4 linked regions of the Homo sapiens genome follow. The protein of the gene in region 1 interacts with the protein of each later gene in a biochemical or structural test. Each region holds a gene or a part of one and is shown in the gene's direction. Other genes may lie near its edges.

Region 1 (4,866 bases):
GAAACAAGCTACCCAACAAAATGAAGCAAAGCCATGAGACAGGTTCAGGCCTATTGCTGTGGAGTTTGGAGACAGAAGGTAGCACTGCTTGCTTCAGGGTAAGTATAGGGAGGAGAAGGGGTTAAGGAAAGAGGCAAGAGGAAGCCTGAATTTGGCCAGACTTCAGTAGAGAGGAAAAGGCATTCTGGGTCAGAAGGGGATGGTAAGCAGTTCACTCTGGAGCTTTGGGTATATGAAGGTGAAGAGGAAAATTGGAAATCATGAAAGAAAAATAAGAGTGTTTGACTGCCAAGCTGAGTCTCTGATTGTTCAGAAGGGAGGAATGAGGGGTGGGCCTGAGAAGAGAAACGAGAAGCAGAAAAGCCCTCTGCTCTCTTCCCATTCTCCTGCCTGCTTCTTTTTGGAGCCTAGGCCTAGAGCTTGTGCCTTTCAGCAGTCAGTGTCTCGGGGGTATGGTTTCAGAGAGCTTTCCTCCAGCACTGTCAGCCCCAGGACTCTGCAGCACAAAACCAATTTACAATTAGAGTGGGGTTTTAAAAAAATATTAACCAAAATCCTTTCAAAAGATTTGGTATGCATCTCAGTCATTTACAGTGATGGGCCAATGTAATCAGACTGCTAACCTAACAATGTAGATGGAAGAAGAGAATCAGTGTTTTGAAAGAAAGGAAGAGCATCAGATAGTTAGGGGAAGGGGAAACACAGATGGATTCTTCGTTTAAGTAGAAGACCCAAAAGGTGGGAAAGAGACTAGATCACAGAAAGGAAAGTTTTGAAGGTACAAGAAAAACTTCCCAATTTTTCTAAGGGCTAATTCTACCCTCTCCCAGCTGTCCAGTTCCAGTCCCCAGTCTCCCTTTACCTTTCTTGTCTAAGGAAAGAACTGGTAGTGGGAGAAGCAACCAGCTACATGGAACAGGTTCAGGGTGCTTGCTGGGCACTGCGGGTTACAAATAGAGATAAATGCAGACTCTGTTGTCAAGAAACTTAATGTGGAAAATGAGACTTAATACAAATAATTAAAATAAGAAGTCATAAGTGTTCAGTGCTAGTAGAGAAGTAAGAGGAAGTGGTACAGAACAACAGAGAGGAAAGGGAGATTTCTGGCTTAAGGAGGCTGAGATCAGGCAGATGCTTTCCATAGGCAGTAGGTTTTGATGTAAGCTTTTAAAGAAGGATCAGGATTTAAATGGGAAATGATGGCAGGGAAGGGATTCAAAGAGCAGGAAGATAGGTACATAGGTGTGAAAATACAGATGTGTTTATGGCTGTGGCTCAGGGCTATATTGGAAAGAGTTTTGGGGAAATAAATTTACACTTTGATTTAGCTGTTGATGGGGTCCAAGTTAGGCAATAGTCTGGAGGAGTGGTGGTTAGGATCCAAAGTAGGAATCAAGGAGTTTGCAGCGAGAGGTATTATTGCTTACATGTGAAATGTATTTTCACTCGCTTGCGAATGGAGACTAATTCCCCTTCCACCCTCTGCAGTTACAGGATAGAGAATCCTACATTGCCCTTCTAGTTGGAGCCAAGTATGGGATTAGCCAGGTTATCAATAGCAAACTCAACATCATGTCCACATTGGCAGAGTTTGCAAACATCAGCCGTGTAGAGCTAACGGAAGAGTCTGAGAAAGTGAGCGTCGTCAAAGTGTATCTTCAGGACGTCAAGGTAACACAATGGGGAGAGATTCTGAATTCAACTGCTGGAATTTGGGGCCAAATAGGGGCCAGGCTAGTTTATATGAATTTTAAATAATAATAAAGTCTAATGTCCAATATCTGCTTAAGAGGACGAATTGTCCATCCTGTTCTATCAAACGGAAAGTGGTAAATGGTAAATTTTCCTGAAGAGGTCCTAAAAGGTTTTTTTGCACAAACTGAGATGGACCATGTGCTTTCCTGTTGGATTTAGAAACGTAGATGGAGAACACCAGAGGATTTTTTTTTTTTTTTGAGACAGAGTCTCACTCTGTTGCCCAGGCTGGAGGGCAGTGACACGATCTTGGCTCACTGCAAGCTCCGCCTCGTGGGTTCACACCATTCTTCTGCCTCAGCCTCCCAAGTAGCTGGGACTACAGGCGCCCACCACCATGCCCGGCTAATGTTTTGTATTTTTTCGTAGAGATGGGGTTTCACTGTGTTAGCCAGGATGGTCTCGATCTCCTGACCTCGTGATCCACCCGCCTTGGCCTCCCAAAGTGCTGGGATTACAGGCGTGAGCCACCGCGCCCGGCCCACCAGAGGATTTTATCACATGAATGGGACCAGATTGCTGCTCAAAAGCTTTGAGTGGTGGGCATTAAAATGGGTAAATAGTGGGCCCGGTGTGGTGGCTCACGCTTGTAATCCCAGCTACTTGGGAGGCTGAGGCAGGAGAATCACTTAAACCCAGGAGGCAGAGGTTGCAGTGAGCAAAAGATTGCACCATTGCACTCCAGCCTGGTGACAAGAGCAAAACTCTGTCTCAAAAAAAAAAAAAAAAAAGGTAACTAGTGCAGGGTACCTCCTGAGCCTCTCTCAAAGGTCTTACTTTTATTCTGCCCTCCTTTGATTTAATCCCAACATACTCAATATTGGTGCTTTATTCTTATCACCCTCTCCCTCATTCTCCACATGTTCTTGCTCCTTTTTCTTTTTTAAGTTCAGTCTTGCAAGTCCCTCTGCAGGAATGAACAGGGTGGGATGGGGCAGTTTGGATATGGCGCTGGGGTAGAGGATGAGGAGTCAGAAGACACTGTATAGATTGGGTGGGAAGGACCCACTGTGTGTGAGTGAGTGTGTGAGTGCGTGAGAGTGTGTGTGTGTGTGTGTGTATGTGTGCGCACACACACACGCGATGGTGTCTGTACGAGTACATGCATGTCCTCATTTAAAGCCTTGCAAGTGAGGATATGGGGCACCAGGAGACCTACCTGTGGACCATGGCCGGATTTACCTGGAATCTCTCGTTGGTCCCACATGGCTTTGTTGTCAGTCTTCAGACTGTCCCTTGGTCCTTGATAAACATGAGATTTCTATTTGCTTTCAAAGGTTCTGACTTTGCTGCTGGAATCCAACAGTGCAAAAGACCTAGCCTGCCTGATTGCTGGGTACTACAGGCTGTTGGTTGACCCAGTTACCTCCATTTTCCTCTGGCCTGGAAACAAACAACAAGCGCACCGGGTATCTGCAGAAGAAGGTGAGGCACTGAGTCTTGCCCCAATAAGGACAGGCCCCTTTCACTGGCCTTGTAGGTAAGGGCAGCCTAAAGGGAGGTGGTGAATTGAATTGAGCCGAGGCTTCAGCTCAAGTGGATGAGAGCTATTTCTCTGTTTATTTCCTAGTAAACAATTGATCTTTCATAAATACTAAACAAAGAAGCTTTCTTTGTATCTGAAATTTTCCTGAAACCAAGGAATGCTGTGGAAGAGCTCTAGTTCCCTGCTGTATTTCCTAAGATTGTCTCTCAGATCCACTGCATTTTATCATTATTTCTCAGCCAGGCATTGTGGCTCACGCCTGTAATCCCAGCACTTTGTGAAGCTGAGGCAGGTGGATCACCTGAGGCCAGGAGTTTGAGACCAGCCTGGCCAACATGGTGAAACCTCATCTCTACTAAAAATACAAAATTAGCCGAGCATGGTGGCACATGCTTGTAATCCCAGCTACTTGGGAGGCTGAGGCAAGAGAATCGCTTGAACCCAGGAAGTGGAGGTTGCAGTGAGCCGAGATCGTGCCATTGCACTCCAGCCTGGGCAACAAGAGCGAAACTCCATCTTAAAAAAAAAAAAAAAAAAAAAAAGATTATCATTATTTCTCATCAAAAAGAGATGTCACTTATTTGTTCAGGAAGTAGATGACCTGGCTTCTCTTCCTTACCTATGCACTCTTTTGCAATCTCTTGAAGTATAAAAGAACTTCTCTGCAAGGCAGGTAAGACAGTTTCCTAGGCCAGCTCCCAGTTTCTGCCAGGCTTTTGCCTCAGCACCATTGATGCAGCATGAACCTAGGGCTGTGCTGATAAATGCTTAACAACTCCCTGCAGAGGGACAAAAACAGTTTGAAGGAATTGCCCAATTCCATGGTGTCAACATTCTCACGATGGGTAATTTCAGGCTACCACGATATGATGATACCATGATGAATGTGGAGATGGGAAGAGGTGATCAATAGCACACCACTGTAGAGTGTTTCCTCTATATGGATAAAGTAGAAATCAGCTCAAGAGAATAGGTACTAATACAATAAGTAAAACAGTTAGAAAGTGATGAGTTTGGAGTATCTGTTACCTTTGTTTTTATTTTTATTTTTTTTAGAGGCAGTCTCTCTCTGTCACCCAGGCTGGAGTGCAGTGGTGCAATCTTGGCTCACTGCAGCCTCCACCTCCTGGGTTCAAGTGATTCTCCTGCCTCAGCCTCCCAAGTAGCTGAGATTACAGACACCTGCCACCACGCCCGGCTAATTTTTGTACATTAGTAGAGATGGGGTTTCGCCATGTTGGTCAGACTGGTCTCGAGCCCCTGACCTCAAATGATCTGCCCACCTTAGCCTCCCAAAGTGCTGAGATTACAGGCATGAGCCACGGCGCCCAGCCTGTTACCTTTGTTGTTACACAATGTATTTATGAACGAGGGGTGACTCCTCAGAGTCTGCTCAGGGAGACAACGCAGAGTGGCAACAGGGCTGTTGTGGAGGGGTTGTGGGGGGGACTGCTGCTGCCTGTCAGAGAAAGTTCTCTAGAGGAAGAGGTATTGGAAATAGATCTTGAAGAACATGCTGGAGTTAACCAGGCACGGAAAAGGAAGACAGATCATTCAAGGCCGAGGGGGCCTGGAGGAATGACCCGAGGAAAAGGCCATGACCTGAAAGGAGCTCTCCCTATGGG
Region 2 (4,866 bases), on another chromosome or scaffold:
TTCTCCTGATTATGAAAATAATAAATATTTATTAGGTAAATTTGGAACTTACTGAAAAGTGTAAAGAAGATAATAAAACCTATAATCTCACCATCTACTATTAACACTTTGATGTACGTGTATATATATTTTTTAACAATTGGGATCATACTGTGTATATTGTTTTGTAAACTGATTTGTTCATTTACTATTTTAAGCATTTTCTCATTTGCTTATATATTATTCAGTATCATTATTTCTTTTTTTTTTTTTTTTTGAGATGGAGTCTCACTCTGTTGCCCGGGCTGGAGTGCAATGGCCCGATCTCGGCTCACTGCAACCTCCATCTCCTGGGTTCAAGCAATTCTCCTGCCTCAGCCTCCCAAGTAGCTGGGATTACAGACGCCCACCACCACGCCTGGCTAATTTTTTTGTATTTTTAGTAGAGATGGGGTTTCACCATGTTGGCCAGGCTGGTCTCAAACTTCTGACCTTAGATCTACCCACCTCGGCCTCCCAAAGTGCTGGGATTACAGGTGTGAGCCACTGCGCCCGGCCCAGTATCATGATTTCATTACTGCATAGTACTCTATAATATTTTATCACTGCCTTATGTTGCCTTTTTTTTTTTTTTTTTTTTTGAGGTGGAGTCTTGCTGTGTCGCCCAGGTTGGAGTGCAATGGTGCGATCTCGGCTCACTGTAACCTCTGCTTCCTGGGTTCAAGCAATTCTTCTGCCTCAACCTCCTGAGTAACTGGGATTACAGGTGCATGCCACCATGCCTGGCTAATTTTTGTAGTTTCATTAGAGATGGGTTTTTGCCACGTTGGCCAGGCTGATCTCAAACTCCTGACCTCACGCGACCCACCTGCCTCGGCCTCCCAAAGTTTTGGGATTATAGGCATGAGCCACTGCGTCCAGCGTATCTTACCCTTTTAAAATCTCTTTTTTTTTTTTTTTTTTTGAGACGGATTCTCACTCTGTCGCCCAGGCTGGAGTGCAGTGGCTCGATCTCGGCTCACTACAAGCTCTGCCTCCCGGGTTCACACCATTCTTCTGCCTTAGCTTCCCGAGTAGCTGGGACTACAGGCGCCCGCCACCACGCCTGGCTAATTTTTTGTGTTTTTAGTAGAGATGGGGTTTCACCATGTTAGCCAGGATGGTCTCAATCTCCTGACCTCGTGATCCACCTGCCTCGGCCTCCCAAAGTGCTGGGATTACAGGCGTGAGCACCACGCCCAGCCTAAAATCTTTTTTTTGCTGTTACAAATAACACTGTGTTGAACATCCTGTGCATAAATATTTGTGTCCATCTCTGATTATTTCCTTAGGATAAATTGCTAGAAGTGGAATTATTGGGCCAAAGGGTATATGGTTTTTAAAGGCGTTTGAGACATATATCTTCTGAAAAAGTTTTATCAGTTACCTTTTCCACTGATAGTATATGTGTCTACCTTTCTCTGTAAGCTAACCGTTACTGAGTGAATTAATGTTTTTAAAGCCTTTGCCAGTTTGATTAATTAGACATGGTATCTTGTTTTACTTTGCAGTTCTCTGAACATTTCATTTTAAGTGTTTTGGCCATCTTTTATTTGCGTTCTTTGCTCTCTGTTGGGGATTTATTATATACATATGTCTATGTAATAAATGTATACATTTCGTATAGTTTTTCATTATAAAATATTTTTCACGTATAAAAGCATATGTAACTGTTATGTAAGGTTAAAATAATAAAATGGATGCCATTGTATCCACTGTGGAGTTCTTGGAATTGCTTCCTGCCCGTTACTTTCTTCCTGCTACTTTATCTGGGATGAAAAAGCCCTTTCTCAGGACTCATTGGGTCTGTGTTCTGCAGCTGGGACAGTCCAGGTGGCAGCCACACCAGTGCTTCCTAATTCTGTCTGTGGGGAAACAACTGCTACAGCTGGTGAGAACAGGAACTGGTCTTGGTGGAAATAACTAATCTTCAGTGAAGTGAAAAAAGAAGCCAAAGTGGAGAGGAAATGAGACCACAGATCCTCCCCTGCCCCTGAGGTTGCTTGGGGAGGCTGGGCAGAGCCGGGGTCCTGGTTCTGTGGTCAACACCAAAGTATGTGCCCCAGAAGTGACTGTAGTAAGCCCATGGGACAGCAGTGTTGGCTGCCTGAAGTCAGCGTGTCATCTGGTCTGCCAGACCAGTCACTTCCATTCTGGGGAAACATTTCTCCCACGTCTCCAGACCAGTCTCTTCCATTCTGGGGAAACATTTCTCCCACGTCTGAGCTGAGCAATAGCAGAGCCAGGGAAAGGCTAGGGGTTCATCGCGGTTCGGAAATGACTTTAAAGAAGGGGAGGACCTTTTTCTTTGAAGATAGAGGAGGGGACGGTCCTGTCAGCACACAGGCTCCTCCTCTCCTGCTTCTTGCTGGGTACTTCTGAATAGCAGCAGGTGAGAACTTCAGGGATTTAAGATTGTCATTCATAGAGAAGTGAAGTGGATTCCAGAATAGAACTGAGCTGGGCAGCTAGAATTCCTGCATTCCATTTCCAGTCTCTCTCTTTTGCCTCTCTGGGCAAAGTTATGTCTTTGTATCTTGTTTTCCTTTCACATGGAGAGTGAGTCAGTCCCCCAGGAAAGGTGTAGAAATGTCAAGCTCCCTCTGTGTCCTGGAGATACTCTTGTTGTCTTTGCCTCCCACTTTCCTCTCTACTTCTCTTTTCCTCTTTTAGAATCTTCCTCTTTCCAGGTTCTCTTACGCTTTCTGTCTTCCATCACCTCACAACAAAGTTGTGGGTTGGGGTTTGTGTGTTGGGTAGGGGAGGACATGGATAGGGTGTTTTTTTTTTTTGGGGGTGGGGAGCAGTATCTCCCCTCCTGCAGCTTTACTATTATGCATACTCTTCTTAGTTTATAAAGTATTTTTAGGTCCTTGAAAGGTGTTCTCAATAATGTCCAGAACCACGAGGGGCTAGCAGAATTATTTACATGGCAGATTTTGCCAGTAGAGGACAAGTTTAGGCTCTTGTATATTAGTGATGGTTTAATTCTTATCCTTATCCCCCACGTCCATCTCTTTTACCACCTTATCCCCCCTCACCCAGAGTTATGGCCAAAACTGGAGTTGGGGCTGGTGATCTTACCTCTGGGTCCCTTATACACACCAACAGGGAAGATACGTACTTTGTTTCTCCCCTGTTTGCTCATTTCTACTCAAATTCAGAATGGAGAATATCATAATCCTCTTTTAATTGTACGGTGCCTCTCTAAGAAAGTTGACATGAGCCTGGTCGTTGGGTACTTTAGGAGATGGATATTTGGTTTTAAAAACTACCTATAGCTTAGAGCAGTTTCTGTTCTTGTTTTTACACAGAAGCTGGGGAGCCAGTCAATAGATCCTCCTAGTGTTTCCCATGAAATCTTAAAAAAAATTTTGTTCTGGGAGGAAGCAGTAGACCATTGGTTTTGGAATCAGAAGACTTAGGTTCTGATCCAGCTTTATAGTCTTTTTTTTTTTCAGCTGCACGACTTTAGGCAAATCCTGTAACTTTTCTGAGTCAATTTCATCCTTTATGACACGTGTGAGGATAATACCTATCCTACAGGTTTTTGAGGATGCTTACAGGAGACAACATAGTGAAAACACTTTGTAACCTATAAAGGTGCTAAAAATAAATATTTATTGTATATACATTACCCACTTTATCTCGTCTCAGAATTCCATAATTTAAAGTAGCTTTCAACTGAGGGAGGTATTGTCCCAGGAGGGAGTTTTTGGAAGCACTTGAGGATGTTTTGATTATCATACTGACTGGGAGTGCTAGGCTTTCTAGCTGAGAGCCAAGGCTGTTAAACATCCCTCTGTGTTTGGGTCATGTTTTGGTGAGTCCCACACAATGAAGAAGGATCCTGCCCAAAATGTGATTGGCACCCCTACTGAGATTTGCCTTCCACTTATCTGTACCTCCTTTGTCCTGTGTACCAATTGAGGATGAAGCTTCAAGAGCAGTAAAAGGGAAGACAGAGCCATGGTGTGTGGTGCTTTCTTGGTTTTCCCATTTCCTAGCACACCTTTAGGAAAGAGGTGGACCTCTTTTTATTACCTCTGCCTGTTGGTTTAATACCTGATTCCTCTGTACTGTGGGCTCTACCCTAAAACTCATCAAGTGGCAGTTTGGGATGTACATACTACACTCACCCCCTGGTCAGTTACTCAAGCCAGAGTAAAAGTTTTTATAAGTTGGGAATATGTTTGAGAGATCTGTCAACAGTAGTTCTCAATCTTTTGGGTAACAGATTCCTTTGGAAATCCAGTTAAACCTGTGGTCCCTATTTCCCCTCTCCCCCTCCCATCTATGTATGAACACATGTAGTATTTTGGGAGTTTTAAAGACCATTTTTGGATTTGCTGAGGAAGCCCTGGCTGCCAGCCTGGAGGAATGGGAAGTGATAGCTGGGTGAGGAAACTCTACTGCAGGAACTCCTTGATACAGTTTTAGTACTCTTGATCCTTGGTAAGAAGGAGCCCTGGTTATTGGTTCAGATAAAATAATGCTGCTGTTAGTGGTTCCAACAAAAAGAGCTTGTTGAAACTTGGGTGATTCCCATTCAGAGGAAGATATTCAGGCCCCTGGACAGTTTAACTTTGATTAAGGATCCTTTGTGATGGGGTCTACCTCTTTGAACTAGGGCCCTAGCCCTCAACCTTTGGGAAGATCCAGGTGGAGATAATAGGATGTACAGCTGGCCCTCCTTATCTGTGGGTTCTGTATCTGTGGATTCAACCAACTTCAGATATAAAATATTTGAAAAAATTGTGCATGTACTGATCATGTAGCGTTTTTTTCCTTGTAATTATTCTGTAAACAAAACAGTATAACAACTGTAGGTGAGTCTTAAACAACAAG
Region 3 (4,866 bases), on another chromosome or scaffold:
ATCTGGTAGGGCAGATCCAAGATCTGTTTGTCTCCAAAATCTGCTTCTGTCCTGCCTGGGAGACCTTGGGAATGACGGCAAGTGGTTGTAGGAAGGAGGGCTGATGTCAAGGTGGCTGTGGGGGCAGGAGGCTGAGGGAACTCACTGACCCTTGAGGGACTCCTTAGGTGGGGGATTCTGGGTTTCCTGTTGGCAGCTGGAGGGGGAGTGCCAGTTCCCATAAGTGGTTATTGCCCAGGTTGTGACCTTGGCTTGGCCAGTGATTGGTTCATTTTGGAATTTCATGAGTGACCCCCAGGCAGGGTTCTTACAATCACGCTGGAAGACCACCCAGGAAGTTCCTGTGGGGTAAAATGATGCAGCAGCCTGCTTTCCTCAGGAGGTCTGAAACCCTCCCCATGTACACACACACACACACACAAACACACACACATCCACCCACACACCCTCCACCCCTCTTGGTGTCTTTGGCCTTTTTTCCTAGCTTGTTTGTTTCTATGGGTGTCTTCAAGTTCAACTAGAACCTATGGGAATGACTTAGTTTTGAACCTGTAAGAATGAGAAGTAAACAATTCTTTGTACTGACTTTGAATTTCCTTTCTTCTGTTGTCCAAAGGTGAAGGGTGACAATGTGTCCCAGATTTTTTTGGATATTCTACAAAAAAATAGATATTTTTTTGTAGAAAAAAGCTTATTCTACAGTGTTGTCCCAATTTTAAAAGCCCTAGAAAACTGGTTAAGGCAAATTATAACCAAATCAAATCACTAATTATTACAATAAAGTGTAACTAGCTACAAAAATCCTAAAATTACAATTTTAGGCTTTGAGAAAATATCACTGATGATAGAGGAAGAGTGACAGTCTTTGTTTTGGGTCTTGGGATGGCAGAAAGAAAATATTTAGTAGGGAGTAAAGATCAGTGTACCCCTTGAAGTGTGGTGAAGATGGGTGGGTTTTGATGCTCTGTGTGTGTGTGTGTGTGTGTGTGTGTGTGTGTGTATGTAGAATTTCCCTAAATTCAAAATGATACTTACATTTTGATAAACCCAGAGAGTTAATTAACATGGCATAAATGTGCTAGCTCATTGTTGTTTTTCAGGGAAAGAACTAGAGAGAGACACAAGTCACCCCGGAATAAAGACGGCAGAGGGTCAGAAAAGTCTGTCACCATTCAACCTCCCACTGGAGAGCCCCTGTTGGGAAATGATTCTACTCGGACAGAGGAAGTTCAGGTAAGGATCAAAGGTGGTCTGTAAGCACACTGCCACTTGGCCAAGACTCCTGTCTGTAAATGTTTTCCTTAGGTTCTCTTGGATTTTTGTCTTTATTTTTCTAGCATGCTAATTAGTTTATCTATGTCCCATGGTCTCTTGTTGGTCTAAGGACAGCCTGTCCTGCCCTTTGGTAGCGTGGGGATTCTTCTGAAGTATGATTGGTTGGCCTGCTTTACATGGTGTGGAAAAGTAGCCAGCAAGGTTGACGACAGGGTTGGGAAGGGAAAAGCTGAAGTCTCCCACGACTCATTTCAAAATGGAACAGTATAAGGGGGAGAAGGAAACTCAGAAAACCTAAGAAGTTTAAAAAACATGGGGCAGCCCAGACTGACCATTACTACTAGAGCTATGCAGGAATTGAGAGGCCGCACGCTCAGATGCCTGGTAGAGAAACGTAAGTTAATTAAGGAGGCCCTGGGTCGAAAAGAGGGGGCAAAAATATATTAACCTAGCTTTGGGTTAACAGCAATCTGTGCAGTGCCTCAGTGTCAGTGCTGTAGTGTGGTGTGAAGGAGCCTATGGCTAACTGGAGAATGCATTTCCTCTGTAAAGGAAACAGCAGCTCCGCAGCTCCAGACACCTACTGTTGCTCAGGAATGCAGGGATTCATTGTTTGAGAAAAGCTGCAAATCAGGATTTTATGTGGAATCCTAACTTTACAGTATTTTTGAAATACTGATACTTTATTAATTTTTTTGAACCATTGAGTGGGTTCTTCTCCAGGTTCCAACTGTCTGGCAGCCCACCTGATTTAAATAAACATCTGAGCTATACACAGAAACATGTCTGCATACCCTCTGCACATCCTGAAGTATATATACACATGTCCAGCCTTGCCCCTCATAAACAAAGTGGTGTATGATACACAGCTGTAAAGATAGATATAGGACTATAGATAAGCATACATCTGTACATACCTGTGCATACACACAGGTAAGCATTTATAATCAAATAGGTGGACTGAAACTGGAATTCCTCAGAGTACACAAGGTGTTCTTGGGACACAAAACTACAATTGTGGGTTGAACGTGGGATTCATTGAGCAATGAGCAAATGCCTTTAGTGCTGCCTGCCTTGGCTCTGGGATGGCTGATGGTCGGATGGGGCCAGTCTTAGGATTGGATCACCCTGGAGTACTTGAAGGGGTCAGTTTCCTCCTGGATGTGGGTTCAGAGGTGCCAGTGGCCTACAGCAAAGGCTCTTCTTTCTCTGCATCTCCTCTGCACCTCGTAGCTGAGAACACTTTGAGAAGCTCTTGGTGTTGCCCCAGGATGATCTGGTGTGAAAAGCATTGAGATGGGTGTTTGGAGGCTGTATTTTTTAGTAGCTCTGTTACCTTGAGCAGTCACAGCCTTTGTAGGCCTCAATTTCTTTATTGAAAATCTAGGGGTTTTGATGAAAGCATCTTAGGTGCTTTTTCTTCTAAGAACCTGAAGCTTAACAGGATCCTTTGTGTATCTACATGTTTTAGGCATACATGTGCACCCCAGGAAATTCTCTCATGCCCTTTCTAGTCAATCTCTGCCCCACCCTCACCTCTCCAAGGCAACCACTGTGTTGATTTCTATCACTGTAGATCAATTTTGCCTGTTTTTGAATTTAGTATAATTAGAATCATATGGTCCATCTCCTGCCCCCACCCACCCGCCCTGCTTAGCATAATGATTTTGAGATTTATCCATGTTTTGGTATGTTTCAACAGCTTATTCTTTTTATTTTTGCTGAGTAGTATTCCATTGTATCAGTCTACCACAATTTGTTATCCATTCTCCTAGTGGATGGACATTTGGGTTTTTTTTGTTGTTGTTTGTTTGTTTTTTGAGGCAGAGTCTTGTTCTGTCGCCCAGGCTGGAGTGCAGCGGCATGATATCACCTCACTGCAGCCTCTACCTCCCGGGTTCAAGCGATTCTCCTGCCTCAGCCTCCCGAATAGCCGGGATTACAGGCACGCACCACCACGCCCAGCTAATTTTTGTATTTTCAGTAGAGATGGGCTTTCACCATGTTGGCCAGGCTGGTCTCGAACTCCTGACCTCAGGTGATTTGCCTGCCTTGGCCTCCCAAAGTGCTAGGATTACAGGCGTGAGCCACCGTGCCTGGCTGGATGTATATTTTTATTAATTTTTGGATAAAACCTGAGAGTGGAATTGCTGGGCCATATAGCTAAGTGTATATTTAGATTTATATGAAACCGCCAGAGTGGTTTTCCAGAGGCACTGTACCACGGTCCACTTCCACCAGCAGTGTTGGAGAGTCCTGGCTGCTTCTGGCCATCGTCTGAAATAGGAATTTCTCTCACTGTAGGTGATACTTCTGACTTTGCAAGTTGAAGGATTATTAGTTTATGGGATTGAGACCTTCACCACCACCGCTTCTTACCATAGCCCATACATTTCATAAATCATGGTTTTTTTGGTCATTACTAGATTCGGAGTTATTTGATGATGAGCGATGTCTGTCTTGCTGATTTAGCTACTAACTGAAACTAGCTTTTTCTAAGTTGGTGTCCTAATTTCACCCCCTTTGCCACTGCATCTGACTGTTTTCTTTCCGAGTGAAAGGATACATACAAATTTCAGAGGCAGAAACCTCTTTGGCCTCCTGTGTCTTTTCAGCGCCTTGCTCTTATTGCTTCATTATTGTTGCCAGTTGTTTTTAAACAACAAAATCCTTTAAAATTCTATCAACTGGGTTTTGCTAAGTGAATAGACTAATTGCTTTAACTAGCAACGGCCTAGAAGTTTAAAAAGAGAGGAAGCTAGAAAGTAAAAGATAACATTTTAATAATCCTGGTTGTTTCTATGCCCTTGATGTTTAGTTCCTCGTGAAAACATGTTTTAGAAAGAATTTTTAAGCCAATCTGGCCATACACGGATTCCTGGATTTGCTTAGCTTGGTCCATGAGAAATATTGTTAAAGAGTGCTTGACACTGATGCTTGTTAAGTGGATCTTGTGAACATCATAAGGAGATTTTTTTTTTTTTTTTTTGAGACGGAGTCTCACTCTGTAGCCCAGGCTGGAGTACAGTGGCACGATCTCAGCTCACTGCAACCTCCGACTCCCGGGTTCAAGCGATTCTCCTGCCTCAGCCTCCTGAGTAGCTGGGATTACAGGCATGTGCCACCACGCCTTGCTAATTTTTGTATTTTTAGTAGAGACGGGGTTTCACCATGTTGGCCAGGATGTTCTTGATCTCCTGACCTCCTGATCCGTCCGCCTCGGCCTTCCAAAGTACGGGGATTACAGGTGTGAGCCACCGCGCCCCAGTCCATAAAGAGATTTTAAAATGTGGGTCCTAGCTACAGGTAAGCTTGGGTTTGTGTAGTGGTGTAAGTTCCCTTGCTACGCCCTTTGCTCTTCTGGGCTGCTAGAGGGTGTAGTAATACTCCCACCTCCAAAAGTTGGACTTCGTAAGCCTTTATAACCCAGCGTGAATTGGAAAGAAGATGCAGGAGGTTTATCTCTATAGATGAGCTCTCACAAGATTAGTCTAATACCTGGGTTGCGCATTGCAGGGCAAACAGCTCCAGGCCCTCAGAGCTGCTCAAGGCTTTTCAACCCAGGGGATGATAATCAATGTTATGTCAATG
Region 4 (4,866 bases), on another chromosome or scaffold:
CTTACAGACATGGACAGAGATTCCCAGCCTACAACTTACTAGGTCTGTGACTTAAGGAAGACGTATGGGCCCTCTGAGCCCCAGTTTTTTCAGCTGTGAAGTGGGAGAAAGGCTTACCTACCTTATAAGGTTTTCATGAGAATTAAATGAGCTGCTGTATATAGAGTGTCTGGCATCCTGCTTGGTCCATGGTAGTCCCCACAAATATTAATTAGTTCTCTTCTTTCTGGGATGCCTCCAGCCTCAGACTATATGTTGTCATCATGGGGATATAGAATTTCATCTCTTGGGCTGGGCGTGGTGGCTCACGCCTGTAATCCCAGCACTTTGGGAGGCCAAAGCAGGTGGATTGCTTGGGGTCAGGAGTTTGAAACCAGCCTGGCCAACATGGTGAAACCCTGTCTCTACTAAACTACAAAAAAAATTAGCTGAGTATGGTGGTGGGCGCCTGTAATCCCAGCTACTAGGGAGGCTGAGGCAGGAGAATTGCTTGAACCCGGGAGGCAGAGGTTGCAGTGAGCTGAGATCGCGCCACTGCACTCCAGCCTGGGTGACAGAGTGAGACTCCATCTCAAAAAAAAAAAAAAGAATTTCATCTCTTTTGTTTTTTTGTATATTTCTCTGCATACTTTTCCATATCTACCTTTTTTTTTTTTTTTTTGAGACGGAATCTCGCTCTGTCGCCCAGGCTTGGGTACAGTGGCATGATCTCAGCTCACTGAAACCTCCGTCTTCCGGGTTCAAGTGATTCTCCTGCCTCAGCCTCCTGAGTAGCTGGGATTACCAGTGCGCACCACCACACCCGGCTAATTTTTGTATTTTTAGTAGAGACAAGGTTTCACCATGTTGGTCAGGCTGATCTCAAACTCCTGATCTCGTGGTCCTCCTGCCTCGGCCTTCCAAAATGCTGGGATTGCAGGCGTGAGCCACCATGCCTGGCCCATCTCTCTTTTTAAATGGTGGCATTCCATTGGAAAAATACACCATGAAAATTTACTGAATCATCTTCCTATTGAGAGAAATTTTACTAGTTTTCAGTTTCTAGTTGAGCACAGGTTGTTTTGTTGTTCTGCAGAGTTGCTTCTGCAGGATAAAATTCTCTAGCGTGGCATTACTGGGTTACAGGGTAGTCACATCTCAATGGTTCTTGTTCAACATGGCCAGATTCCCTATGGAACACTGAGCTCACTCACATGTCTCTAGCAGTGCACGAGTAGGCCTTGTTCCTTTTTGGCATTGCTGATTTTTGATTGAATACTTTTTTTTTTTTTAAGCTTTTTGGCTACAGGCATATTAGGTTAAAGGTGACAGGCCATTGAGGTTTTTTTGTTTTATTTGTCTTGCTAGATTAATATGTGTCTAGTGGTATCTCAGGGCAGTTTTTCTTGTAATTTTTTTAACTAATTTTCTTTTCTTTCTTTCTTTTTCTTTTTTTTTTTTTTTGGTAGAGACAGAGGCTCACTATGTTGCCCAGGCTGGTCTCAAACACCTGGCCTCAAACGATCCTCCTGCCTTGGCCTTCCAAAGTGTAGGGATTACAGGCATCAGCTACTGCGCCTGGAGTCAGGGGAGTTTTAATTTGCTTTTTCTTTAATTATTAGTGAGTACAATCTTCTCTGATGTGTTTGTTAGTTTACTAATGATTTTCTTTAGACGTGAATCCTCTCTGTGGTATATTGACTTGTGAACTTGTATTGACTCTATTCATGCTATTTTAGATAGCATGAATTGGTCAGCTTCATAGTGTATATTTTCTCTATTCCATTAAATTTAATTAATTTCATTTGATTTTATTCTGTTCTTCAGGAATCTTAGTTTTTATATAGTCCAACTCATGTACTCTGCTTCCGTCATTAAGAATTCATAGTGGGAGAAATAGGCTGTTGCCTTTTCTCTAGAATGCATGGGGCAAGGCTGTTTGTTTGTTTGTTTGTTTGCTTTAGACAGTCTTGCTATGTTGCCCAGGCTGGAGTGCAGTGGCACAATCACAGCTCACTGCAACCTCTGTCTCCCGGGTTCAAGAGATTCTTCTGCCTCAACCTCCCGAGTAGCTGGGATTACAGGCACATGGCAACATGCCCCTGGCTAATTTTTGTATTTTTAGTAGAGATGGAGTTTCGCCATGTTGGCCAGGCTGGTCTTGGACTCCTGACCTCAAGTGATCTGCCTGCCTTGGCCTTCCAAAGTGCTGGGATTACAGGACTGAGCCACCACGCCTGGCCAGGGCGTTTTCTTAAAAAAGTGATTGAAATCTGCTCATGCCCTGTGCCACGTGGGTCTCACGCAGGTCTGTTCTCTGCTCCAGGTCTGCCATGTGAATCTGGAGGGGCAGCCGTTCTACTCCAAGAAGGACAGACCCCTGTGCAAGAAGCACGCACACACCATCAACTTGTAGGCGGCCAAGGCCGCCTGTGCTGACGAGGCCCGGAGCTGCTCCTGCTGCTGGCAACAAAGGATTCGGGAGGCTGATGTTTCTTCTGAGGGGAATGGGGAGAGAGAGGAAGCGACTGAGCCCTTTGGAAGTATAATTTTAGGTTTTTTCTTCTGTACACAGATCGTGCATTTGCATAGTTCAGACTAGGAGCCAAATGAAGACTCAAAACCAAGCTAGTTATTAATCCAAGACTGGAATTGTACTTCAGACATTTAGAGCAGAATTCCAAGAACTCAAAAGTGAAAAGCAACAAGCAGCTTTCCCAAAGCGATACACTTGCTTTGGTCACCAGAGGAGGACAGAGCTTAGAGCAGCTGTGGAGAATCTGAAGCATTCTGCGGAGTTCTTAAGCGCTCCCCTGGCAAACAAATTGAAGTGCCAAACAGCACTCGCTGCAGGGTATTTTTAGAGTCATAGCTGAGAGCTTGTTAGCTAAGACCCATTGGGCTTTCCTCACCAAAAAAGGAAGTGTTATTCCATTACTAGCGTCATGGAGCTACCTCTGCGCATCAGACTTCAGACCTTGAACAAACTTAAAACCTTCTTGGGAGCCCGGACGTCCAAAGAGATGTCTTCTGGGAGCCACTGGGCAATTGCCAGGGCTCCAGGAAGGGCTCTGGCTCAGGTTGCAGACAGCTGAGAAAAGATGGCCCTGTCAGCCACCCTCTCTCAGTCTGAAACATCCAACATCCCCAGAAGGCTTAGCTCCTTTTTGAATTGTGATGGGAAAGTAGAGTTGGGTTTTTCCAGTTTTGCTCTGTGGTGTGTGAGAGATTTTTTTAAAGGCTTTGGGTTGTCTTTGGCCTTTGTTTAGCTTTAAGGGTTCGTTAGCATGAGTGTCCAGTCGTGTGCATGAATTTCACCCCAACTTGTGACTGCTCACTTATGACGTCTCCCCCAGTACCCTCCATCTCAAATAGGCTTGGTGGCCTGTGGAAAAGAAGAGAGACAGAGAGACAGTGTCTGAAACAGGATGGCAGAATAGGCTCACATGCCCAAACTCTGGGTGGGGAAGAGGAAACTTACTTTCTGCCACCCTCAGTAAGAACACACGAGGAGGCAGGACCTCCCACCTTCAGGTCTGCATCATCCTTTTCAAATGTTCCTTTAAATGCAGCACACTGAGTTTGTACAATTGTGTTAACTGCTGGAAGGGACAGATGCACTGATATATATGCATTTGCTGTTTTGGCCAATATTTTGAAAATGTATGAGCTGAGTTGATCTAGCTATTATTTAAGTATTTATTGAAGTAGAGGGGCCTTCAAACTACTTTATACTAGTGATAGTTTGAGTTAGGTAAGCATCTTAAAGCTGTTTGGTGATAAAGAAGGCAGCTTAGATTCTGTGGTTGGAAACAGTGTAGTCGCTTCCCTTTTTAGGAAGCCCTGTTAATATGCTCATTGAAAACATGGCATTGAAGCAGGCACTTGCGTGGATGTTTCTCACTTGAGCACGATATTTAGGCTCTCTTCCAACTCACTCTATTCTGTCCTCACTCCTGTTTTGGATTTTTCTCTTTGCATGTTTGAAATGTTTTATGGGAATGTATTAGAACTCTTTTCTTCTAAGGACTGAGACTTCCAGGGGATTGCCATCTTACCTGTCTCTTCTCCATGAGGGAGAAGGAAGCAGCTAGCTATGTCCCTAGCTGCAGGAAGCCCCTATTTTTTCCAAGCACGAAGCCACCAGTCTCCCCCAGGGAGCATCAGGAAGGGACATGGATGTGCTCCTGCCACAGGGCCCTTCCTACCTTTGGATCTGTGAGAAGGTGAATACAAAGCAGCAGGCAGAGTAAAATCTGCTGGGACTGCCTGGAGATTTGTCAGGAGCTGCAGACAAGTACCTTGGAGCATTCTGTTATTTTTGGAAAGTTCAAATATGCAGGGACAAGGAGGTTGCTGACTGTACTGACAGGCTCTAAGTCATTTTCTCCAAAAACTATCTATTCAATTATCAGGGGCTGGTCTTGAGGAAGGAAAAAAAAAAAAAAACGTTCCCAGAATTCAGTTTCCAAAATCTCTTTTTAAAGGGTTTACACACACACACACACACACACACACACACACACACACACACACACACGATCATTAAAAAGTGTATGCTCTTTAAGAAGAAAAGTAAAATATCTCAAAGGACGGTTTCACCACCGTCCTTTATTGAATCAATTTTTCTACATTTCAGAGCAAGTGTAGATTCTGAGGGACTCCTATTTGCCAAAAAGACAAAACTAGCAAAAAAAAAACAAAAAAACAAAAAAAAAACCACTTAAAAGGTAGCAGGAAAAGAAGGTAGTTTTGAGTGTGGTTCACTCAGTGTCTGTGAGTCTGGTGTAGTGTCAGGAGTAAGGCCGTGTCTAGCTCAAGTTTACATTTGGATGTCCTACAACACTAAACAAAATTTTTCATAATCCATGGTGGGGAGCACACTTT

The links. The genes of interacting proteins can lie anywhere in the genome.
Region 2: the proteins of FRMPD1 (region 1) and FMNL3 interact in a test that uses a peptide from one of them, tested with the Homo sapiens proteins (one large-scale study listed by IntAct).
Region 3: the proteins of FRMPD1 (region 1) and VANGL1 interact in a test that uses a peptide from one of them, tested with the Homo sapiens proteins (one large-scale study listed by IntAct).
Region 4: the proteins of FRMPD1 (region 1) and LDB3 interact in a test that uses a peptide from one of them, tested with the Homo sapiens proteins (one large-scale study listed by IntAct).

What each region holds. Positions count from the first base shown.
Region 1 is NC_000009.12:37,734,064-37,738,929, forward strand, and holds part of FRMPD1 (FERM and PDZ domain-containing protein 1), read left to right. Parts: intron 1-1,488; coding exon 1,489-1,671; intron 1,672-3,032; coding exon 3,033-3,180; intron 3,181-4,866. UniProt on the Homo sapiens protein: Stabilizes membrane-bound GPSM1, and thereby promotes its interaction with GNAI1.
Region 2 is NC_000012.12:49,696,469-49,701,334, reverse strand, and holds part of FMNL3 (formin-like protein 3), read left to right. Parts: intron 1-4,866. UniProt on the Homo sapiens protein: Plays a role in the regulation of cell morphology and cytoskeletal organization. Required in the control of cell shape and migration. Required for developmental angiogenesis.
Region 3 is NC_000001.11:115,658,541-115,663,406, forward strand, and holds part of VANGL1 (vang-like protein 1), read left to right. Parts: intron 1-1,100; coding exon 1,101-1,233; intron 1,234-4,866.
Region 4 is NC_000010.11:86,730,582-86,735,447, forward strand, and holds part of LDB3 (LIM domain-binding protein 3), read left to right. Parts: intron 1-2,305; coding exon 2,306-2,395; 3' UTR 2,396-4,866. UniProt on the Homo sapiens protein: May function as an adapter in striated muscle to couple protein kinase C-mediated signaling via its LIM domains to the cytoskeleton.